Linked DNA regions of Homo sapiens: regions 1 and 2 are each linked to region 3. The links come from fine-mapping of genetic effects on gene expression. A gene starts in region 3. Each other region holds a variant in brackets. All regions are shown on one strand. Distances are between the middles of the regions.

The links.
Region 1: its variant is fine-mapped to the expression of SPEN-AS1 in whole blood (TOPMed, PIP above 0.99).
Region 2: its variant is fine-mapped to the expression of SPEN-AS1 in blood mononuclear cells (TOPMed, PIP above 0.99). The same link has a PIP of 0.9 or more in lung and whole blood.

The regions. Positions count from the first base shown.
Region 1 is chr1:15,798,164-15,806,336 of GRCh38, forward strand. No RefSeq gene overlaps it. Among named protein-coding and RNA genes, the nearest start is that of UQCRHL, 5.4 kb to the right of the region's middle. RefSeq lists enhancers at 2,071-2,365, 5,531-6,032. The variant C/A (reference allele first, on the strand shown) is at 3,533.
Region 2 is chr1:15,941,815-15,949,987 of GRCh38, forward strand. It overlaps ZBTB17 (zinc finger and BTB domain containing 17), which reads right to left. Exons shown (of 16, transcript NM_003443.3): 3 at 6,477-6,683; 4 at 5,121-5,309; 5 at 4,340-4,480; 6 at 3,901-4,026; 7 at 3,123-3,388; 8 at 2,883-3,025; 9 at 2,486-2,786; 10 at 1,994-2,081; 11 at 1,785-1,901; 12 at 1,585-1,705; 13 at 1,250-1,380; 14 at 715-924; 15 at 517-606; 16 at 55-438. The coding sequence starts at 6,681. The coding sequence ends at 155. LOC124903855 (a long non-coding RNA gene) reads left to right here and starts at 8,117. Exons shown (of 3, transcript XR_007065486.1): 1 at 8,117-8,173. RefSeq lists enhancers at 310-1,509, 6,711-6,820, 7,421-7,590, 8,082-8,173. The variant A/G (reference allele first, on the strand shown) is at 3,941.
Region 3 is chr1:15,844,804-15,852,976 of GRCh38, forward strand. SPEN-AS1 (SPEN antisense RNA 1) reads right to left here and starts at 3,344. Exons shown (of 2, transcript NR_024279.1): 1 at 3,305-3,344. It overlaps SPEN (spen family transcriptional repressor), which reads left to right and starts at 2,904. Exons shown (of 15, transcript NM_015001.3): 1 at 2,904-3,347. The coding sequence starts at 3,265. RefSeq lists enhancers at 55-154, 2,034-2,546, 2,547-3,058, 4,482-5,076, 7,456-7,525 and silencers at 2,641-3,210, 3,391-3,810.

The DNA of each region.
Region 1 (8,173 bases), 47 kb before region 3:
ACCCAGGGCTTGGCCACTAACCAGCTGTGTGAGCTCGGCCGGTCTCACACCCTCTCTGGGTTATGGATTCCTGAGGAATCCATAAACACGCAAGGATTCCTCAGGAAAACACAATACGGGCCGGGCACGGTGGCTCACGCCTGTAATCCCAGCACCTTGGGAGGCCGAGGCAGGTGGATCACCTAAGGTCTGGAGTTTGAGACCAGCCTGGCCAACATGGTAAAACCCCATCTCTACTAAAAATACAAAAAATTAGGCCAGGAGCGGTGGCTCATGCCTGTAATCCCAGCACTTTAGGAGGCCGAGGCAGGCGGATCACCTGAGGTTGGGAGTTCAAGACCAGCCTGACCAACGTGGAGAAACCCCATCTCTACTAAAAATACAAAATTAGCCGGGGTGGTGGCACATGCCTGTAATCCCAGCTAGTCGGGAGGCTGAGGCAGGAGAATCGCTTGAACCCAGGAGGCGGAGGTTGCAGTGAGCCGAGATTGCGCCATTGCACTACAGCCTGTGCAACAAAAGCGAAACTCCGTCTCCAAAAAAAAAAAAAAAAAAAAAAATTATGGCCTGCCGTGGTGGCTCATGCCTGTAATCCCAGCACTTTGGGAGGCCGAGGCGGGCAGATCACCTGAGGTCAGGAGTTCGAGACCAGCCTGACCAACATGGAGAAATCCCGTCTCTACTAAAAATACAAAATTAGCCGGGCATGGTGGCTCATGCCTGTAATCCCAGCTACTCGGGAGGCTGAGGCAGGAAAATCGCTTGAAACCAGGAGGTGGAGGTTGCAGTGAGCTGAGATCATGCCACTGCACTCCAGCCTGGGCAACAAGAGCAAAACTCCATCTCAAAAACAAACAAACAAACAAAAAACACAATACGACCCAGGAATCCTGAACTGGTCCTTTACAGTTAGCAGGATCCCAAACTTCAGACCACAGGGAGGGGCTGGCTGAAGCAGGAGAGAAACCCATGAGGGGTCACCCTGAGGGCCCAATCAGAAGGCACATGGGGGGTCAGGGAGGGTTAAGAATGCTCTCTGGGGCCTGTGAGTCATGGGCCTGGCAGCTTGGGGTTTCCCAAGACTGCTCAGACGGGCTGTGGCATGCAGGGAGCTCAGCCAGAACCTCCCTTGCAAATCTGCACCCTTTCCCCCAGCAACCCCCCCGCTTCCAGCACCCCTCTGACCAGCAACCCCTCCTTGGCAAGGTAGAACTCCCAATGGCCCACCCTGAGATGGCTTCAAATCAAGTCCCACGGGCAGAAAGCAAACAGTGGCTCCACTCCAGTGTGCCTAGAGATCCCGCTTCATTCATTCATTTGTTCATTCATTCACTCACTCTTTAATAAAATACTCATTGACCCCTCCCATCTGCCAGTCACTGCCCTTGGCACAGAGCTCAGTTTAATGGAAAAAGGAGAAAAGAGAACAGTCCGTGCTGGGGAGGCACAGCCAGGAGTCCAGGAGGGCAGGCCATGGAGAAAGTGATGTCAGAGCTGGGCCTAAAGGGTGTGCAGGGGTCAGCCAGGCGAGGCTCTGGAACAAGAGCTATCCAGGCGCTTGCTCTCTGAGCTGGGCACAGCTGAATGTGGCTGAGCATGTGGGAAGTGCAGGATGAGGGCCAGACTCAGGCAGGAACCAAAGCAGCAAGGCTTCCTAGACTCTGTGCCAGGATTGGGGCTTTTTCCCAGGGGGGCAACGGTGAGAAGGAAGAACCCCAAGCCAGTAGAACCCCAAGCCGGTAGAACCCCAAGCCGGTAGGGCAGATGAACTTGCCATAGAGTCCAACTGCCCATAACCACAGAGGTGGTGGCCGGGCCCAGAGAGGGTGTGAGACCGGCCGAGCTCACACAGCTGGTTAGTGGCCAAGCCCTGGGTGTCCTGACTGCCAGAACAGGGCTTTCCCACCCCTCCCACCGCCTCTCTTATCTTCCAAGACCTACTTGTAAACACAGGCAGGCACCTGCAAACATCTGATCACCTCTGCGAGGAGGAGGATGAAGGTGGGGGAATGAAGGCGTGCAGGTGAATCAGGTCAGTGTTGCTCATAGGCTGACCCAGTGCGGATGGTCCCGTCAGTGGCAAGGAGGGCAGGATTCTGCACGGGTGAGAGCACTTGCCCTAGGGGGATGCAGTGAGTCACTGGGTGCAAAGTTCACACTCCTCCTTCCTCCTGGCTTTGATCTGAGTTCCCTGGAGGGAGGTGCAGCCTGGATTCCTGGAGGCGGGGCCATCTCCTCTCCCTGCCCTGCCCTGTGGGTCCAGATTGGGAGGCCGGCTGTCTCCACTCCTCTCTGAACTCCCACACACACCTTTTCGAGGCCCTAGTAAGTTTCCATGTTGGCCTCACTGGCGGGGTCAGACTTGACCTATCACCTAGGACATTCGCTGCAGGAAGTTGGAAGCTTCCCTCTCCTGCTGAGCTCAGCCATGCGTCTTACTGCCTGGTGCCACATTCCGTTCCCTCCTGTCTCTGGGAGGATGATCAGATCTGGCAGAGAGCCCAGGCCTGCCCAACCAGCGGAACAAAATAAATGACCGCAGGGTGGGACTCCGCGGACACCAAGACACCAGGGAACTCTTGGACTGAGCACCAGAGGAACTAACCCCAGTAGCTGCCCCCGAGCAAGGACCTACTACTGATGCTGCCAACAGCCCCGGGAGACAGAAATATTATCACCCTTATTTTATAGAGAGGAGAAAAGAGGGGTGCAAGGGTCATGGGGACAGTGACTGATCCTGACATCCACTAAGGGCCCTCTTGGGTTTTGTGTCATGAGTTGAAAGGGAAGCAGCTGGCAAGGTGGTGTGACATTGAGCTGCGCAAGTGCAGGTGAGATGCGGTGGAGGTGGAGCAGTGGGACTGACCAGTGTTGGGGTTTTGTCAGGACCGCAGGAGGGGGTGGGGGTGGGGCCTGACCATGAATTGTAGGCTGGGCAGGAAGGACACGGAGGGCAGGCAGGCTGAGGGACATGCAAAGGGGGCAGGATCCATGGACTGCTGGAGCCGGGGCACTGGAGGAAAGAAATGAGGTGAGGTCAGAGAGGTCAGTCAATAGATATTATAGAGGAGGGGCAGTCACTGGTCACGGGGGACAGATACTGGGGTGGCACTGCTCCTAGGGTGTAAACCCTTGGCACATAGCCTGCATAGAACAGGCCCTCAGAGAGTATTTGTGGAATGAATGAGTGGCTACTTGCAGTCTGGGGTTGGGTGACTCAAAGGATATTTTACTTTCTTCTCTCTAGCTTTTTTTTTTTTTTTTCTGAGATGGAGTCTCACTCTATTGCCCAGGCTGGAGTGCAGTGGGGCAATCTTGGCCCACTGCAACTTCTGCCTCCCAGGTTCAAGCGATTCTCCTGCCTCAGCCTCCTGAGTAGCTGTGATTACAGGCACCCACCACTATTCCCACTAATTTTTGTATTTTTAGTAAATACGGGGCTTCATCATGTTGGCCAGGTTGGTCTCAAACTCCTGACCTCAGGTAATCTGCCCACCTCAGCCTCCCAAAGTGCTGGGATTACAGGTGTGAG[C/A]CACTATGCCCGGCGGCCTGCTTTTATTTATTTATTTTTTTTAATAACAGCTTTACTGAGATATGAATCACACATACAAAATTCACCCTTTTAAAGCTTTCTTTTTTTTGAGACAGGGTCTCGTTCTGTCACACAGGCTGGAGTGCAATGGTGCGATCATGGCTCACTGCAGCCTTGACCTTCTGGGCTCAAGCCATCCTCCAGCCTCAGCCTCTTGAGTAGGCTGGACCATAGGCGCACACCATCTTGCCTGGATAACTTTTGATTTTTCTTTTTTTTTCTGTAGAGATAGGGACTCACTGTGTTGCTCAGGCTGGTCTTGCACTCCTGGGCTCAAGTGATTCTCCCGCCTCAGCCTCCCAAAGTGCTGGGATTACAGGTGTGAGCCACTGTGCCCAACTCTGATTTTTTTACAGTAAGCACATGATAAGGGAGGAGACCACCCCTCATATTGTCTTATGCCCAATTTCTGAATCCAAAGAAAGAAGTAGTAAAAACTAAAAGGCAGAAATGGAATCCACAGGCAGATAGCCCAGCACTGCACCCTGGGCCTGGAGTTAAAAATCAACCCCGACCTAACTCTTCTGTTATCTATAGATTTCAGACATTGTATGGAAAAGCGTCGTGAAAATCCCTGTCCTCTTCCTTTCCGTTCTGATTACCAGTGCATGCAGCCCCCAGTCACGTACCCTCTGCTTACTCAATCGATCACGACCCTCTCACGCGGACCGCCTTAGAGTTGTAAGCCCTTAAAAGGGACAGGAATTGCTCACTCGGGGAGCTCGGCTTTTGGAGACGTGAATCCACCGATGCTCCCAGCTGAATAAAGCCCTTTCCTTCTACAACTCGGTTTCTGAGGGGTTCTTGTCTGAGGCTCATCCTGCTACAATGATACTTTTCTAATATGAACCCATATATGTTTTTAAAATTCATTTTTCTAAAAAGTTAGGATAAATCCATGAGATAGAAAAATAATGGACCAAAACTTAGAGAAAAGATAACTACTGGCTGGGACCCAGGACTGTGGCCAGCCCTGGGCTGATTTGTGGTTTGAGCAAACCACTGCCCTTCCCAGAGCCTCGCCTGTGAGACGGGGGTTGGCAGAAGTGAGCAGGGCAGCAGCTAGGGATTGAGCTGAACTGATGGCATCTCAGGCTCTTCCCAGCCTTAACAGCTCAAGATTTTGGGGCAATCTGGATTCCCACACCTGGTGAGAGAAGCAAATTAAGGAGATGACCTGGTCTTTGGAGTTCTCTTCCCTAAGAGGATAAACACCACAATATTGACAGTCCAGGCAACAAGGCCAAATTCAACCCAGAACAATGTTTTAGGTCACACCATCTCTCATCAATCCCTAATTGAACTGAAGGTATTTAACACCTTATCTGTCTTTTTTTTTTTTTGAGACGGAGTCTTGCTCTTGTTGCCTAGGTTGGAGTGCATTGGCACGATCTCGGCTCACTGCAACCTCTGCCTCCTGGGTTCCAGCAATTTTCCTGCCTCAGCCTCCCAAGTAGCTGGGATTACACGCTTCCACCACTGCGCCCGGCTAATTTTTTCTTTTTTTCTTTTTTTTTAGTAGAGATGGGGTTTCTCCATGTTGGCCAGGCTGGTCTTGAACTCCTGACCTTGTGATCCTCCCGCCTTGGCCTCCCAAAGTGCTAGGATTACAGGCATGAGCCACCGTGCCCAGCCTTATCTGCCATTTTTTATCTTCCATTCTAAACCAGTCCTTCTCAAACTGAAATGTGCATACAAATCACCTGTGAATCTTGTTAATATGGAAATAATCAATAGGTCTGAGGTGGGACCTGAAATTCTACAATTCTAACAACCTCCCAGCAGATGTCAGTGTTGCTGGTCCCCAGACCACTATTTAAATATCAAGGCTCAGCTGGGCACCGTGGCTCACGCCTGTAATCCCAACATTTTGGGTGACCAAGGCGGGAGGATTATTTGAGCCCAGGAGTTCCAGACCAGCCTAGGCAACATCAGTGAGACTCTGTCTCTACAAAAAACAAAAATTAGCCAGGTACAGTGGCATGTACCTGTGGTCTCAGCTACTCAGTAGGTGGGAGGATCCCCTGAGCCTAAGAGTTCGAGGCTGCAGTGAGCTGTGATCGCATCACTGCTCTCCAGTCTGGGCTACAGGGTAAGACCCTGCCTCGAAAGAAAAAAAAGTGACAAAGCAGCATCCCTTTGTCACAGAGAAAACCTGGAAACTCCATTGTACTTCACGGAATTGCTAAAAGACGACACCAGACCATATAGGCTGCCTTCCTATTAACTTTTCCTTTTTTTTTTGAGATGAAGTCTCACTCTGTCACCCAGGCTGGAGTGCAGTGGCTCGATCTCGGCTCACTGCAACCTCACCGCCTCCTGGGTCTAATCAATTCTCCTGCCTCAGCCTCCCGAGTAGCTGGGACCACAGGCAAGCGCCACTACGCCTGGCTAATTTTTGTACTTTTAGTAGAGATGGGGTATTGGCCAGGCTGATCTTGAACTCCTGACCTCAGGTGACCCACCCGCCTCGGCCTCCCATTGTGTTGGGATAACAGGCGTGAGCCACTGAGCCTGGGCCCTATTAACTTGTCTGTCACCTGTCATCTCCCTCTTGTCTTTCATTACTACTTGCTTGTTGTCTATCGTGTGTCCCCTCTACTGCAATGAAAATCCTTTGAAGGCAAGGGCACTGCTGGGTCCCTAGCTGCTGAGCACATATTTAAGGGCTAACTAAATATTTGTTGGATGAATGAACCTCAACATTTTGAGGTAGTAAGTAAAAAAGCAAGTGACAGAATGGTATGCAGGCTTTTTTTTTTTTAGAAGTCTTGCTCTGTCACCCAGGCTGGAGTGCAGTGGTGTGATCTCGGCTCACTGCAACTTCTACCTCCCAGGTTCAAGTGATTCTCCTGCCTCAGCCTCCAGAGTAGCCAGGATTACAGGCGTGTGCCACCACACCTGGCTAATTTTTGTATTTTTAGTAGAGATGGAGTTTTGCCATGTTGGCCAGGCTGGTCTCAAACTCCCAACCTCAAATGATCTGCCCACCTTGGCCTCCCAAATTGCTGGGATTTCAGGCATGAGTCACCGCACCCAGCCCCATTTGTGTTTTTTAAAAGTTTGAGGCCAGGTGTGGTGGTTCACACCATTAGTTCTTTGGGAGAACTGTTTGAGGCCAGGAGTTCGAGACCAGCAGCCTGGGGAACATAGTGAGGTCCTGACTGAAAAAGTTTTTTCTTTTTTTTTTTTTTTGAGACGGAGTTTCATTCTTGTTGCCCAGGCTGGAGTGCAGTGATGCGATCTCAGCTCACTGCAACCTCTGCCTTCCGGTGGTTTCAAGCGATTTTCCTGCCTCAGCCTCCCGAGTAGCTGGGACTACAGGCACACACCACCACGCCCAGCTAATTTTTTGTATTTTTAGTAGAGACGGGGTTTCACCATGTTGGTCAGGATGGTCTCGATCTCCTGACCTTGTGATCCGCTCACCTCGGCCTCCCAAAGTGCTGGAATTGCAGATGTGAGCTACCGCGCCTGGCCAAGTTTTTTTCTTAATTAAAAAGGGCCAGGTGTGGTGGCAGCAGCTACCATTTTTTAGTATGTACATGCATTTGCTTTGTTTTGTTATGCACAGTGCCTGGTCATAATATATTTTTTAAAGAATAATGCCAGTGTGGTGGCTCATAATGCCAGTGTGGTGGCTCACACCTGTAATCCCAGCACTTTGGGAGGCCAACATAAGTGGACTGCTTGAGATCAGGAGTTTAAGAACAGCGTGGGCAACATGGTGAAACCCTGTCTTTACAAAAAATACAAGAAGTTAGTTGGGTACAGGCGTGGTAGCTCACACCTATAATCCCAGCACTTTGGGAGGCTGAGGTGGGCGGATCACCTGAGGTCAAGAGTTCGAGACCAGCCTGACCTACCTGGAGAAACCCCGTCTCTACTAAAAAAAAAATACAAAATCAGCCGGGCATGGTGGTGCATGCCTATAGTCCCAGCTACTTGGGAGGCTGAGGCAGGAGAATCACTTGAACCTGGGAGGCGGAGGTTTTGGTGAGCCAAGATCACACCATTACACTCCAGCCTGGGCAACAAGAGCGAAACTCCGTCTCAAAAAAAAAAACAAAAACAACAACAAAAAAAAACTCCCTTAAGGTGATGCTCCTGCGGCCAGAGTTGAGAGCCTCTTTTTTCTTTTCTTTTTTTTTTTTTTTTGCTCTCTGTTGCCCAGGCTGGAGTGCAGTGGCACAATCTCAGCTCACTGCAAGCTCCGCCTCCTGCGTTCACGCCATTCTCTTGCCTCAACCTCCCGAGTAGCTGGGACTACAGGCACCCACCACCACACCCGGCTAATTTTTTGTATTTTTAGTAGAGACGGGGTTTCACCGTGTTAGCCAGGATGGTCTCGATCTCCTGACCTCGTGATCTGCCCGCCTCGGACTCCCAAAGTGCTGAGATTACAGGCATGAGCCACCGTGCCCAGCCTGAGATTCTGTTTTAAGATGGCTTTTGATTTATTTTGATGGAGGTAATGTATCAATTTTTTTCCTTTATGGTCTTTATTTATTTATTTATTTATTGAGGCGGGGTCTCATTCTGTCACCCAGGTTGGAGTGCAGTAGCGAGATTTCTGCTCAA
Region 2 (8,173 bases), 97 kb after region 3:
CATCAGTTGTAGCTGCCAGCTCCCCACCCACCCCACAGGGACCTATAGGCAGCATTAGAAAATAATCCAATTTATTCTCTCTAGGGAACAGGCCACCCTTCCCGGTTCCAGGGTGCCATCCATCCTTAAATAAACAGTCAGAAGGGCCGCCAGCTCACTCGGCAGGCGGGGGACATTCAGGAGCTGTAGGGGAGGTCTCTGCCAGTGCGGGCTGGCCCTCAGCCCCGTCGCGAGGGCGGAAGACCAGCTCCCCAGCCTGCAGCACCTGCCCGGCAGGCCACGTGCCACCTGGCCCATACTGCTGATAGAAGTCCGCGTCTGTCTGGAACATGACCAGTGCCTGGGCTGTGTGGATTCGCACATGCTGAGCCAGGCTGTTGGCATCCAGAAACTTGTCCCCACAGGAGTCACAGGCGTAGAGGATGTGAGTGTTGGGGTCTGTGGAGGTGGGGCAGCAGTCAGAGTGGGAAGGACCCCGGGCTCTGCCCACATTCACACCCGGGTGGCCCCCCTCACCTTCTTCCTGCACTTGCTTCACAGCTTTGCTGATCTCGGCCTTCAGGACTTCCGTCTCATCGGCTGTCACTGCAGCTCCCACCGGCACCACTGCGGGCAGAGTCGCAGGGCCTAAGGTGAAGGCACGGGCACTGCCCCATCATCGCCACCCTGGCAGCAAGCTGCCTGTGACTTCCCTCTGCTGCCCACAGCCCGCACCTGTGAGCTGAGTGACGGCTGTCGCTGCCAGTGCCTCGGTAGCCAGCGTGACCATGTCATCCACAGTGACCACGCTGACCTCACTGCCCTCCTCGGGCTCCAGGATCTTGATGCCTGCCTTGCCCTGGTGCACGGTCTTCACGTGGGAGCGCAGGTTGTCTACCCGGTTGAAGCCACGCCCACACTTATCACACAGGTAAGGCTTCTCTCCTGGGGGAGCAAGGTTCTCTCTTGCCTTTGTGGGAAGGGGCCGCAGGGATGGGGTGGGAGGCCCTCAATGACTCGTTTGCCCAGCAACCCTGTCTTTTACAGCAGGAGGTGCTCTGGGGTGGCTGCACGGGTGCCTCTGGTGACACTGGCACCTCTGGAAGCTCTAGGAAAATGGGGTCCTCATTTGAACAGAACTGCCTTCAAGGCCACCTGCAGCAAGAGCTAGCACCCGAGGCTGGGGTCTGGGGGGTCCCTTCCTTCCCCCTGCTCCCCACCTGGCAGCAGGGCCTGGGAAGGAACAGGCATGGTAGGGGCCACAGCTCACCAGTGTGAATGATGATGTGCTTGGACAGGTCCCCCACGTTCACGAAGGCCTTGCTGCACACGCTGCACTTGTGTGGGCGGATGTTGTCGTGGTGGCGAATATGATTGGCCAACTGGCTGGACTGGACGAATCTGTGGGGCCACAGGAAGGGACTCGCATGGAACTGCCCCAACCTGGGCCTCCTGCCTCACCCTCTAGACTGAAAAGGACCCCTAGGACCAGAGCCTGGGGCGTGGGCAGCAGTCAGCTCAGTCCCCAGCCAAGCCCCCAGTTTGTCTTCTGAGCCCCCTCACTGTGGGGTGTCTGGCCAGTGGGTGTGGGGGAGGGGGCAGGACCTCTTGCCGCAGCGCTCGCAGACGTAGGGCTTCTCCCCGGTGTGCTGGCGCACGTGGGCGATGAGGGAGCTGGCCTGGGTGAAGGCCTTACCGCACATCACACACTGGCATGGCTTCTCACCTGGGGACCGGGCAGAAGGTGTTGGTGCCTGCTCCTCTCCGTGCCCTCCCAGTCCTGGGCATGGCCGCTCACCACCCACCTGTGTGAATGCGGACGTGCCGCTGCAGAGCGCCGGGGTCTGCAAACTGTCGCTGGCAGTGGATGCACACGTAGGGCTTCTCCCCGCTGTGGATCCGAAGGTGCCGCTTCAGGTTCCCTGTGGCGAGACCGAGGGCGAACCTGGCGTGGGGCACCACCGGTGGCCGAGGAGCAGGGGTGTGAGGGCAGCCAGGGCAGCCCTGGCCCTACCTGAGGTGGTGAACTGCTTCCCACACTCTCGGCACTTGAGGGGCCCGTCAGCGATGTGGATCTTCAGGTGGGCCTTCAGGTTCCCTACCTGTGCCCAGGGAGGGGTCAGGGGGGCCACCCCACAGAGCTCGGCCCCGGGCCCCCTCACCTGCCCCTCCCACAAAGGAACAATTGACTCTCAGGCTTGCCAGGGTCCGTGAAGGGCTCTATCTCTCCTGGGTCAGGAGAGGTCCCAGGTCCCAGCGGTGAGAGGTAAGCCGCCCCACCCCATTTTTTCAGGACCAAACCCCGCCCTGAGTCGGCCTGCCCTCCGCAGAGCAACCGGGAGCTCCCCCGCGGAAGTGGCTCTCGCTGCGCCTGTTTCCTGGGTGAACAAGCTGATGAGCTCCTGGAGGCCGGGGCTGTGCTCCCCGCCCGCCCCACCACGTGGCATGCATGCGGCTGCGGCCACCGGCGGCTGCCAGGCGCTGGTTCCGGGAGGGGTCCGCACACCTGGTTGAACTTCTTGTCGCAGTGTGGGCACTTGTGCTCCTTGTCCGTGTCGTGGGTCTCCAGGTGGCGCATCTTGGAAGTGGGGTCGGAGAAGGAGCGGCCGCAGTAGTCGCACTGGTAGGGCTTCTCGCCGCTGTGCACCAGCTGGTGGCGCTTGAGGTTGCCCGAGGTGGTGAAGAGCTTGCCGCAGTCCTCGCAGCGGTAGCGCGCCTCGCCCGAGTGCCGCTTCTTGTGCAGGTTCAGCAGGCTGATGAGGCGGTAGCTCTTCCCGCACTCCTCGCAGCCGTAGGGCTTCAGAGGGCTGCAGGGCCAGAAGGCGACAGGAGGCAGGGCTCGCTGGGGCGTGAAAGGCCGGGCCTGGCAGGGGCCGGGGTAGGAGGCCGGCTTGGGGCAGTACCTGTGCGTCTTCTCATGGGCCTTGCACGCGGCCGGGTCGGAAAAGGCCTTGCTGCACTCCCGGCACGAGAAGGGCTTCTCCCCCGTGTGGATGCGGATGTGCCGCTTGAAGTTCCCCGTGTGCGTGAACTCCTTCCCACAGTCCTGTGGGTGCAGCGGGGAAGCGGGGTGTGAGGAGCAGCCGGTGGGAGGCCGGAGGGGAGGGACGCTGGCTGGGAGGGCTGGCCATAGTCTCCCTCACCTCGCACTTGTGGATGACGGAGCCGTAGGCCTTGGACTCCGTGCGGTCGCCGTAGGTGCCTGAGCGCAGGCCCCGGGCCTCGGAGCCGAGCTCCTGCCCCGAGTCTGTGCCCGCTGACTCCTCATTCTCGTTCTCCTCGGGGGCCTCTCCGTTCTCCAGCTGGGAACCCTCCTCCTTGACCTCAGCTGGCCCTGCGCCCTCCTCCTCTTGCTCCTCTTGCTCCTTTTGCTCCTCTTCCCCTTTCCGGGCGGGCTCCACCTCCATTTCTGCGGAGAAAAGGGCAAGCATGGAGGCGGCAGCCCTCTCTGCCTGAGCGCACGTGAGGGGCGCCGGCAACATGTGGAAGGGACAGTAAATGGCCCCAGCACTGGCCAAGGAAAGCCCCCGGGGGGGCCTGTGAACTGGGTATTTGCTGCTTGCGGGATGCAGGTAGGGGGCTTAGCCAGCTGGGGTGGGCGCTGTCGGCCAGCAGGCACTGGAGGGTTGCCGTGGGTGGCAAGGCACCCCTGCACGGTGCTGAAAGCCGGGAAGCAGCAGAAGCTCCAGGGCTTTGAAGGACGTGCCTGTGCTCACAGACACACGGCTAGCATGGTCAACCAAGGAACGACCTCGAGACTCAAGAACATGCGAAGACCAAGGTGTCCCAAAGCTGAAGTGCATGGTGACTCCAGGTGGGACTAGCTGGAGGCAGGAGGAGAGGGAGGCCCCAGTGCGCAGTGGAGGCAGGGCCCTGGGAGGATGCACCAGGTAGGGCCTGGTCCTGGCTGGGCGGGGCTACCTTGCTCCGAGCTCTCGGACAAAGCGGCCTCAGCTTCTGC[A/G]GCAGCCATGCCACTCGTGGGGTCTGGCTTGAGCTCCACAGGCGGCGGCTCCCGGGGCGCATCGGCTTTCTCTGTCTGCTCTGCACCTGGGTGGGGGAAGCACCGGAGGCTGGATTGCTACCCTCTGCCCAGGGGTCGGATACCTCTCCTGGACCAGCGCGCTGGTGGTGGCTGCGTGTGACCCAGGAGGGGAGGCCCCAGCACACCCCTAGCCAAGGCTGTTGTGTCTGCTCTGGTTGAAACAGACCCCCTGGAACACACAATAGGTCATTCTGGGTAACACAGGCTCAAGAGGTGCAGGTGCCCGTGCTACCTGCCCCAAGGCAGCCCTCACTACCCTGTGCCCAGGCTGCTGGGAGGTGACAGGACAGCCGGCTGGGTCCTTGGCATCTGACTCACCGCTGGCCGCACTCTGGGCCTGACCGCCGCGCTCCTCCTTGAGGTCCCTGCTGGGGCCTATGGGTGTGCTGCGTCCTGCCTGCTCCAGCCTGCTCAGCGTGCTGGTGGCCACCTTCTCCTCTTTGGCTCTCTTGTCCCCTCCTGGAGATGGAACAGGGCAGACCTGCCGTTTCCCATCAAGTGCCCGCCATCTGGAGGTGTGAGGTGGCCCAGAACTTGCTAGGTCTTCCTCGTCCTCCCTAGGGTACCTCTAAGTAGTGGTTTGCTGATTTGTTCATTCACCAAATTATTCACAGGGCACCCACTCCATGCCAGGCTGATGGCTGGGCACTGGGAATACAACAGTGATGGTTCCTGCTTGTGTGGGACATGCAGACCCCATGTGTGCACTAAGGGAGCTGATCAGAGGTCAGCACTAGGAAAGGGAGGAACGCAGCCTCTGGAAGTCTACAGCAAGGCACCTGGCCCATAGTGGGCATCTGAGGGCTTTTATCTTAGCAGCTAAGGGAAGTGGAAGGAGGGGCTCAGGAGAACAGACCCGCAGGAGGGTTTAGGAGCCTGCCCGTGTGCAAAGGCACTGAACCAGGCACGGCTCCCGGGTGCTCTGTAGGGGAAAGGCAGGCAGAGAGGCCACCCTCAGACCTGAGGCTAACCCTTGCCAGCACCCACAACCGAGGCAGGGCCAGATGAGGAAACTGAGACCCAGAAAGTCAGAGGCAGAGCCCACATCAAAAGCCAAGGTCTCTGGCCATCTGCTTGGGAGCAGCTGCCAATAACCTACCTTCTGTGGCCAAGGCCTCCGCATTTCCCCCAGGGCTGGTAGCCGGCTCAGCAAGTGACTTGAGGGCATGGCAGGCCGTGATGATGTCCTGCATTTGGAGGAAAGTGGCCACGGCCAGCACATCATCCACGTTCTCAGGGCTCAGGCTCAGCTTGGCCGTGTACATAAACTCCAGCACCTGCCCCAGGCCTACCAAGGACAGGACAGCTGTCACAGACCCACCTCAAGATCCGGCACCGGCAGCCTGCCCCACCACTCCACTCAGCAGCAGGACGCAGGGATTTAGGAACAGCTGAGTGGCAAGCCTGCATCGCCCCATCTCCTCTGTGGAGAGGAGGCAGGTAACCTGGGGGATCTCAGCACTACCAACAGCCCTTGAAAAGAAGTGCTCGCTGAGGGTCTGAATGCCTGCCCTGCACAGAGAACAAAAGGTGTGAACGCCCACCCTGCACAGAGGACAGGAGGTGTGAATGCCCACACTGCACAGGGAACAGAAGGTGCAACTGTCCGCCCTGCATGGAGGAGGATGGGCTGTGAATGCCGCCCATGCATGGAGAAAAGGAGGTGTGAATATGCACCCTGCACAGAGGACGGGGGTATAAATGCCCATCCTGCAGGGAGGACAGAGTGTGAATGCCTGCCCTGGATGAGGACAGAGGTGTGAATGCCCACCCTGCATTGAGGACGGATGTTGTGAACACCTGCCCTCCACACCCTCTTATTTGGCCGCTACACTTCACCAGTGGAGGACACTCCAACCTGACTTTCATCAGGGCTCTGCTACCAACTCTCTATCTGACTGACCTCCAGGCCAGTCACTGACCTCTTTGGGTCTCAGTTTCCACATCTATAAAATGGGAGAATAATACCTTCTCATGGCATGTCACGTCAGTCTGGGTTGGGAGTCTGAATCCAGGACCAGTTCCTTCCACAACCCCAAGGTCTTCCTGACACTGCTCCCAGCCCCTAGGCCTTCCCCATCACCTCTCCCCACGCTTCTAGTTAGCACTGGGGTAGATGCTTCAGGACTGACTCTGCCACGGAAAGGGGCCAGAGGGCATAGAGCCTGCCTACTCTCTGCCCCTCCCAATGAGGCCTTTCCTGTGTTCACTGCGGCCTAGAGCTCATCATGAGCCCTTCCTGCCCGTTCTCCCCTTACCACTCCACTACCAATCAAAACAGGCCCCCAAAAGGTGGGAGGAACTTAGTACTGAATTGCTCATGGCCTGAAGCCTGTGCGGGAGGCCTGTTGCATCCCACAGCCTGCAGGTGCTGCCCCTGGAGGGCCTAGCATGGCACAGGGCCGGCCATAGCTTCTGGCTATCAGCAAGCTCAGCCCCAGCCCTGACGGGGTACCTGCCGCGTTACTGATGTCCAGGTGCACCACGTCCTTCTGGTCCACGAAGAGCATCTTGAAGTACTCGCTGCAGGCCGCCAGCACTGCTTTATGAGCCTTAAAGTGAACACCGTCCACCACAAAGGTGCAGTCACAGAGAAGCCCCAGCTGCCGCTGCTGGTTCAGCTGTTCCAAGACATGCTGGCTGTGCTGGGGAAAGTCCATGGCTGAAGAAAGCCAAAGGGCGTTGGGGTTAGCACGGAGAAAGGACGTCAGACACGCTCAACAGTCACTCCTAAAGTCCCAGGCGAGCACCATGGAGAAGACAGAATTAAAACAAGTGAGGGCATTTCTGCCACAAAAGGGCAGTTCAGTCCAGATACCCCCTGCAAGCCAAACTCAACCAACTGGTGGCTCCTGTATTCCTGGGTTTACTGTCCAGGAAAAGTGGCCCAAACCAAAAAGCACTGGGGCACCAACACGAGGCAGCCGCCTCCGTATTCAGCCTGATAATAACATGAAAAAGCCAAAAAAGGGAACAAATACAGAACACTGAAATGTGTCATCATTTCAAAAATGAAACGACATGGTCACTTTAACATTTGTTACAAAAAGAATGCATGACAATCTCAGAATAAAGGACAGATGTTTCAATTGGACATGTTGGTCTTTAAGAAAACTTTCCTATTTTCTCATTCTCTCATGGACAGGTGAAGACAAGACGGTGTTTCATCAGCCAGTGTTGCAGAACTCGGCCCCTCTCAGGCTCTGCACGTACCCCATCCCCCGACAAAGCCTAGCTCTCCCTCTCTTTCTGATTCATGGGAACTACCTAGAGTTGCGGAGTCTTCTGACTCCAGAAACCTGTGTCCTGGTGGCCATCCCAGGAGAAACAACTTTGATCCTGACCCCAAGAGCTGCTGACCTGGCCACAACTTCTCTGTCAAGGGCCTCACTTAATGCCTGGAAATCCCACAAGTGAAAATGCTCAGGAAAATTCCATGGCCCAGTGCCGAGCAGTCTTGAACCGCACAAGCCGTGACTAAGTAACTATCTAAAACAGCTCTCCCTCCCGCCCCAACACCACCCAGAGTGGGCGTCAACATCAGCAATTGTCTAGGGAAAATAAGCGGGCCCTCTTTTCTAGAAAGAACCCATTTCAGAATGTTTGAAGAGAAAAATCAACACCCACTGTCTGGGGCCACATTAGACAGATTCAACTGGGCACGGCTGTCACGCCCTGGCCCAGGATCTGCTAAGGGGTAGTGAGTTCTCTGCCTACTCCTCCTCTTCTCTGAGGCCTGAGTCTGCACGGGGCTGGCTCCCCGGCTTCTGGGCAGGTGAGAGGGACACTTTGGGGCTCTCCGCCCCCAGTTTCGGCAGCTCTGCCCCGGCTCAGGCACTCCCCTGTGACATCAGCATCTTGGGGGGTGAATCACTGCCGCAGCTCTGAAGCTGCTGTGGCCATGCATGGCTGTCGGGCTGTGATGAGTCCGGAGGAAGCCACGCCCCTCACACCAGCACAGGTCGGCCTTGAAGGGCGCCAAGGCCTCCCACCACGTGATGTCTGGAAACTTTTCACAAGTGGGGGTATCTGCTGAGCGGGGGGAAGTGACGCAACAAATAACGGGGAGCATGGCAGTGGCAACAGGCATGAGCCACAGCGCACCAGCCTCCGAGCCACAAGTTCAGCGTTGCTGCTGCTGCCAGAGGCCCA
Region 3 (8,173 bases):
CATCTCAGCCTCCCAAAGTGCTGGGATTATAGGCGTGAGCCACCGCACCCGGCTCTTTTTTTTTTTTTTTTAAAATCATGATTTTAACAGAAGCCTCCATTCAAGGCGAGACATGCCTTTTATTTCTCTAATTGCGAGACACTTTTCTGAATCCTCTTGTCAGTTGCACCTTTTAATACAATTGAGGTGACACTGTTCTTCATGGTGACACTGGTCTTTCCCAAGAGGTTTCAGCTAATTCAGTCTATCAGATTTTACATCAGATTTTAAAATTTGCTTCAAACTTGGGTGCTTGTATTCAAATTCATGCTTCATAGAAAAATGCATATCAGTTCAACAGTTGACTAACTGCAGCCACGTTCACAGTACTGAATAGTTCATGAGTTTCGTTAGTAGGGTGTTAGCTTGACTTTCCTTATGTGATAATTGTGACAGAGAAATGGCCAGATGTAAATAGCCAATTTTACTTTTTTTTTTCTTTTTTTAAGAGAGGGGTTTCTCCTATGTTGCTGAGGCTGGAGTGCTGGGGCTTTTCAAGGCACAATCATAGTGCACTACAGCTTGGAACTCCTGGACTCAGATGATGCTTCTGCCTTAGCCTCTCCAGTAGCTGAGACTACAAAGAAACAATTTAGTTATGCATAGGTGACCTGAGATATTAGTGCCATTGGTTTTGGTGACAATATTTTCGAATTCAAATAGTGTCGTTTGTAAGTTAGTTTGTATTTAAGGAGATAATCGATGAGGCCAAGTATTTAAAATTGGCTGGGCTGGTGGTTCATGCCTGTAATACCAGCACTTTGGAAGGCTGAGGTGGGCAGATCACCAGGTCAAGAGATCGAAACCATCCTGGATAGCATGGTGAAACCCCGCCTCTACTAAACGTAAAAAAATTACCTGGGCGTGGTGGTTTGCGCCTGTAGTCCCAGCTACTTGGGAGGCTGAGGCAGGAGAATTGCTTGAACCCGGGAGACGGAGGATGCAGTAAGCAGAGATGGTACCACTTCACTCCAGCCTGGTGACAGAGTGAGACTGCGTCTCCAAAAAAAAAAAAAAAAAAAAAAAAAAAATCTGGCTTGCACCTGAAGCAGCACACCTCTGGTATTTCTGTGTATTTTTATTATAAATAATTTTATTTTTCTCTCGATATAGTTACCTTAATTTTATGGGTTTTCCTTGAATTTCTGTAAATTGGCCTTTATATAAAAGTTCAACTGGCCGGGCATGGTGGCTCACGCCTGTAATCCCAGCACTTTGGGAGGCCAAGGTGGGCAGATCACCTGAGGTCAGGAGTTCAAGACCAGCCTGGCCAACATGGTGAAACCCCGTCTTTACTAAGAATACAAAAAACTAGCCTGGTGTGGTGGTGCGCGCCTGTAATTCCAGCTACTCGGAAGGCTGACGCAGGAGAATCGCTTGAACCTGGGAGGCGGAGGTTGCAGTGAGCTGAGACAGCGCCATTGTGCCCCAGCTTGGCTAACAAGAGTGAAACTTGGTCTCAGGAAAAAAAAAAAAAAAGAGGCTGGGCGTGGTGGCTCAAGCCTGTAATCCCAGCACTTTGGGAGGCTTGAGGCGGGTGGATTACCTGAGGTTGTGAGTTCGAGGCCAGCTTGACCAACACAGAGAAACTGTCTCTACTAAAAATACAAAAATTAGCCGGGCATGGTGGCGCATGCCTGTAATCCCAGCTACTCAGGAGGCTGAAGCAGGAGAATCGCTTGAACCCAGGAGACAGAGGTTGCAGTAAGCCGAGAACACACCATTGCACTCCAGCCTGGGCAACAAAAGCAAAACTCCGTCTCAAAGGAAAAAAAAAAAAAAAGAAAGTTCAACTGTAGGTTTCAAAAGCTCTTAGGCCTGGAAAGGCCAGAGGTCTAATTCCTTTCTCTGTTTAAATATTAAATTATGGTCTGAGGGGAACAATATTGGATTCCTGTCTCATTTCCGTTTTATTCCTTCTATACCACAGCGATCAGCAAGGGTATCTTGCAAACGGTTTCGCAAGATTCTATATAAAAAAGTTGCTTAGGCCAGGTGCAGTGACTCCCGCCTGTACTCCCAGTACTTTAGGAGGCCGAGGCGGGCGGATCACCTGAGGTCAGGAGTTCAAGACCAGCCTGGCCTACATGGTGAAACCCTGTCTCTAATAAAAATACAAAAATTAGCCAGGTGTGGTTGCGGGTGCTTGTAATCCCAGCTACTTGGGAGGCTGAGGCAGGAGAATCGCTTGAGTCTGGGAGGCGGAGATTGCAGTGAGCCGAGACCGTGCCACTGCACTCCAGCAGCCTGGGCAACAGAGCGAGACCCCGTATTAAAAAAAAAAAAGTTGCTTCATGTTACAAGCCAGTGACTCTTGGATGGGATGCGTTTCTGAAGCCGTCGCTGTTCAGCAGAGCGGTGAGAAGGGCAACCTTTTTCTGATCGCTTTCCCAAGCAGGCAGGAATCTAAGTGTCCGGAAACGCCAGGAGCTGGCCGCCAGGTGAGCGGAGGACGAAGGGGTCCTGACTTCTAGGGGACAGGCCTTGGCAGCCGCTTTGACCCGTAGCCCTGTGGAAACCAATTGCATTTCTCTTCATATCTTCCACCAGGCCGGGGCCTGGGGTTGCCGCTGGAGGGGCTAAAGACCGCTCCTGCTTCCTCAGCCGCCCCTTGCCCGGCGCGGGAACCCGACCGAGAGCCCGCCAAGCAGCGGGACTCCACTAGCAGCTGCGCGCCTGCGCACCGGGGCCGAGCGCGCGAGCGTTCCTTCCCCGCCTGTAGTCCCTCACTTCGTCGCCCGGTCCGCGCGCCTGCGCGCCGGCTGGGAGGAACTCAGCTTCTCCGCCTTGGCAGGCGGGAGGACGCGCGCGCGCCCGCGGCGAGGGGGAGGCAGTGCGGCGGCGGGAGTCGGGCCGCGCGCGCCAGTGGGAAGCGTCCGGCTGCCACAGCGCCAGCTCCGTCGTAGTCGCTGCCGCCCGTGTCCCGCTCGCCCCTCCTCCCGCTCCCCCGCCCGCCCCTGCCCGGGCGCATGCGCTGCCGGAGCGCGAGGGTCGGCTTCGGGTGTGTGGTGGCGGCAGAGCTGAGCTGCGAGGCCCGAGAGTCAGAACCTGGGGGAGAGGGATGGTCTCTGCACGGGGGGGAGCCGGAGGAGCCGCCGCCGCTGCCGACGCCACCGCCGCAGCCGCCGCCGCCGCCGCCCCGGCACCCGCCTCCCGGCGCTGACGGTCTCGTACGAAGCCGGCGAGGGGGAGCCAGCAGCGGCGGTCGCCGGCACGCCGCCCAGCATGGTCCGGGAAACCAGGCATCTCTGGGTGGGCAACTTACCCGAGAACGTGCGGGAAGAGAAGATCATCGAGCATTTCAAACGGTGAGTGACACGAGGCCCGCGGCCGCGCTCGCTCCTCGGGCGCCGCTTCCCGCCCCGGCCCGTTGCCGGCCCCTCCCGGAGCGCGGAGCTGGTGAGGAGGACTCCGGCCCGGACCCACGGGCGCTGTGGGACCTCGTCAGCCGCTCGGCCCGCGTCGCGGCGTTGGGCCTCGGGTGTCGGCGGTGCGGGCGGCCAAGCCGCGCCGCCTTCGAAGAGCCCGCGGGGCCCCGGCGGCCGCGTCCGTGACGAGGGAGGTGACCGAGGCTCGGCCTCCACGCAGCCGGCGCCCCGGGGCTGCCCTCGCGTCAGCCCGGGAGTCGGTGGGAGATGCGCTGGGCGGCGGGGTCGCGTCCTTGCGCGCAGTGCCCGGCCCGGAGCAGCCGGGACCCGAGCCCGCCCGACAGCCGGGTCCGGCGCCGCCACTCCAAGCTGCTCTGCGGGCGCTCGGCAATGTCTGACTTCGGGAGGGTTCCGTGCGAAGGGAAAGGCGGTGCGAAAACAGAAGTCGCAGTAGGTACTGTGGTCGCGTCGCGGACCCGGAGAGACCATCTAGGACCTCTCCGGAGGATTTGCAGCCTTGAAACTCACTGGGAATGGCAAACGTTTCTCGTTTTTGCGGGGCTGGGTGGAGAGTGGTGTGAAATAAGTTGGTGCGCCCGTTTGGGCTTCCTCGTCCCCGGCGGAGGAGACCGCGTCTGACAGGAGGTTGCTAGCCCCGGCGCCCGTAGCCTCGGGTCGCACTCCCAGGCCGCCCTAAGACCCTGGTGCCCCCCACCCCTGAATTCCCGAATCAAACGGTAAAACATTCCAAACCTTTTACGATGAGAAGATGTAGCTTAAAAAAAAAACCTCCCCTGAATATTTTTGTGAATTATAAGAATAAATGTTGTCGTTGATACATCTTATTGAGTAGCGTGTAGTGCGTTTTCTTTGTGAAATGCCTGTGTACCGTAACAGATAGGCCTCCGCATAAAACACTTATTAAAATGACGATTGGCTTGGACTTGGTGCAGATTCAGAGGGACCATAGCAAATCTGTGGTTGTCCTCGAAAATGACAGTTTATTCCGATATTTAAGACCCTGGAAGGTTTTAAGTTTGGCTTTTAATTTCCCTTACTATGTAGTGAGTGAAGGAAATTATGGAGCGTCCTCATTAATGAGTCACCATGGGAAAAATAGATTGCGTCGCTCGCTTTGAGCCGCTTGGATAAGGAAATGGAAGCAGCGGCGGCGGAGCTCCTGTCTTTTAAATGGAGGATCATTGATTGTGTTGGTGGTTGCTGTTACTGGGGCATTAAACCCTCGCCGCTGGAGCGCGCGTCTGCGCGTGTCCGCGTGTGAAAAGGAGCCGGGAATCGTGGGGCCATTCATAACCTGCTTGAGCTGTCCTCGGCAGGCCGGGGGGAGGTGCGCGCTTCCAGGGACTCTCCCGGTGTTTACTACGTCGTGCCTGAGAAACCAGGCGGGGGCGGGGGGAGGCAGGGAGCAAAAATTCACCTCTGTGCCCTAGGATGAAGGGGAGACCACGGGCTGGATTGGGAAGCAGATGGGAACTTTCTCTTCCTGGCGCTGCTCCACCCCTTACCCGCCCCCCACCTCCTGGCTTCTCCTCGAGTATCGTCAGTGTTTTGATGGAAAAATCATTTAGGTGTACATTATTGGAGTGGAAAAACCACTTAGATGTGCTCACTTTAATCCCCTGTGGACTTTCTCTGTAGGTCTCTGCCTGGGAAATTCGTATGCACCGATGTACAAGCACGTGCATTGCAGCATTCGCTCGCTCCTCAGTGTTATGTGCCTAGACGTGTCATTTCTCATTATGCAGATTCCAGAGACATTGCATGCTTATGGCTGGGAGTTTGGCCCCTCTGCAAGATGAGGGGGCAGAGAGAAGAAAGAGGAAATCGTCCCAGGCAGCTTTGGAAGGGTTCTTAGTGGACGGTGCTGCGGTCTGGCTTGTGTGAATGACTTTCTAAAATGGCGGCCAGGACCCACTTTATGTGGGAATCAGCAGAGCCGATCTCAGAATGCACAGAGGGAGGAGGGGGCGGAGGATTCGAGCTGCCTTGGAAAGCGGCAGTCTGGAGGAACATTACTGTATTAAAAACGGCTTAGCTGGCAGTTTGCTCACGACTGCATTCAAAGGAGTATCTTACCTATTGCAGAGTAAAAGCAGATGCTACTGATAAAAGCAGGTTATTTTAAAACTAAGCAGATCATGTGTCCCTGAAATTCTTTTATTTTAAAGGTTTTTTTTTTTCATTTTTAAACAAATCTATTTAGTTGTTTAAATAGACAGTACATTTTTATGGGTTCAAAGCATGTGAAAGGTATACAGAGAAAAATCTCCACCCCTGACCCTGGAATTCCCAGTTGCCACACTTCCTCCCCTCACCCCCCAAAATCCAGGTAATGTCTATTTCTGGTTTCTTGTTTATCTTTCTGCATGTACAAGAAATGTTCCTGCTGATCCAGCTGTGGAGCTAAGTGGACCTTGTTTGGAGGAACTCAAGGCCTTTTATCCCTATTGTGGGATATATTTTGTAAAATGTGTGATTGCTACTAGGAGTAAAAGTGAAATCTGAATAATTTAAGTGAAAGGAATAAAAAGGTAGTTGTACCAGAACGATGGCTCTGCAAGAAAATGAAATGGTATTCACTTCTGGTGTCTTGTACAAATCAGAATGAGAAAAACCATGCAATACCTATATTAAAACTGAACTTTAAGTGCCTACTCTTATCCTTTTCCCTAGCTGATTACATTAATAACTGTTTTACAGGATTAAGAGGTGTACACTGGGAATACATTATATAAAACGTTTTCAAGATGAATGTTCTCTTAACAGTGATTAGGCTTTTGTAGTAAGTGTTTGCATTTTACAAAAAGATTAAACCAGACAGCTTTGGGGACAGCTTAGAGACATTTTAACAGAAAAAAGAGGTCAGTCAGTTCTTTAAAAATTTTTATATTTATTTTTAAATTTACATTCTGATTAGTTTTGTTTGTTTGTTTGTTTTTAAATGGACAGTAGATTGAGGGGTGGATGGCGATTTGGCTTTTTCCTCCCCAGTGCCAAAGAAAGACCAAATCCTTAAAACATAATCAGAACATTTACAAAAATTGGCTTTTCTTTTCTTGCAATAATAATAAATCTGTTGTTATTTTTACAGTTTTCAGTTTGCGGATTTAAAAAAATTAAATGAGAACTATTTCTGAATCGGGTTTTAGTTAACAAAGATTCATTACAGGGACACAATAGAGAAAGTCCTTTCCTTTGTATGTTAGCTGGGTTGAAGGGGGAAGGGAGGAGTTATACAATTGGTTCCTGTCTTTTAGTTATGAGAGGGAGAGAGGTGTCTGCAAAGGCGACTCCTTGAATTAGAATGAGCAAATGAATAAAACCCTTAAAATATTTAACATCTTTATCTTTTCAGATTTTAAGTAAGTTGCGAATTTAGTTCTTCCCATCCATCTCCAGTTTTAGAGACTAGGTTAAAGATTATGCGGAGGTAAACTGAGGTAGCCCCTCGTGTAAAAATATTGTTAAAGAGGCTGGGTGCGGTGGCTCACGCTTATAATCCCAGCACTTTGGGAGGCCGAGGCGGGCGGGTCACGAAGTCAAGAGTTCAAGACCAGCTTGGTGAACATGGTAAAACCCCGTCTCTACTAAAATACAAAAAATTAGCCAGGTGTGGTGGTGTGCATCTGTAGATCCAGCTACTTGGGAGGCTGAGGCAGGGGAATTGCTTGAACCTGGGAGGCGGAGGTTTCAGTGAGCTGAGATCGTGCCACTGCACTCTAGCCTGGGGGACAGAGCAAGACTCCGTCTGGGGAAAAAAAAAGAATGAGACCCATTTAAAAATGTAATTTGTTTTTGCTGATTTAAAATGTTTGATCACAGTGGTTTTCCTGAGTTAAATAGATGGAATAGCTATTACATTTTATGTATATTCAGATATCTTTACCTCTGGGACACAATATAAAATATTGAATTTCCTTTTCCTGACTACTAGGGATATTTTTAGACTTAAACAAATTTGACTCACTGTAGCCTGTATCATTGTTACGTCGCTTCTTCATTTGAGACCAGAAGGTTTCTATGAAACCACTTCTTGTCTATGGCCATACCACCCATACCACCCCCATCCCGTCTATGAAACCACCTCTGGTTTTGAATATTCTGATTTCCAATATCTATTTGCATGATAGGCTTTTGCACATTTTAAAAATAAAACAAAAAATTCAGAGTTATCTTAAAACATTAAAAATTACACAGAATAATTATAAAGCAATACAGAATAATACAGAAAAATTATACAGAATAATTATACAAAATAATAAAAAATAATAAAATGGGTTTTATTTCCCAAAAGGAACGCCCCTGGCAGATTGGAGGAAAATATAGGGCTCACTGCCAGGAAGAATGATAGTGTTTCGCTTGTGTGGAGGGCACCTTTTTCTAACTACCTTTGTTGCAGACTCGTGATTGCTGGGATTGTATTGTGTGGTATACTTATGAAGAGGTTTCAGGCTTGATTTATGGGACATTTTAAATCCTGTAAACACTAATCCTTTGGGAAAATTTATGTAGGAGGTTTTTCCAAATAGTCTTTCAAGTTTCCCTTTCCCCCTAGTTTGAAATTTTACTGAAATTTTTAAAAAATTGAAAATATTCCATGAAAACCAGCATATCCAATTGGAGACTATATATTTCTTTGCTTTTATTAATCGACTGACTGATTGATTGAGACAGAGTCACCCAAGATGGATCACGGCTCAATGCAGCCTTGACCTCCCAAGCTCAAGTGATCCTCCCACCTCAGC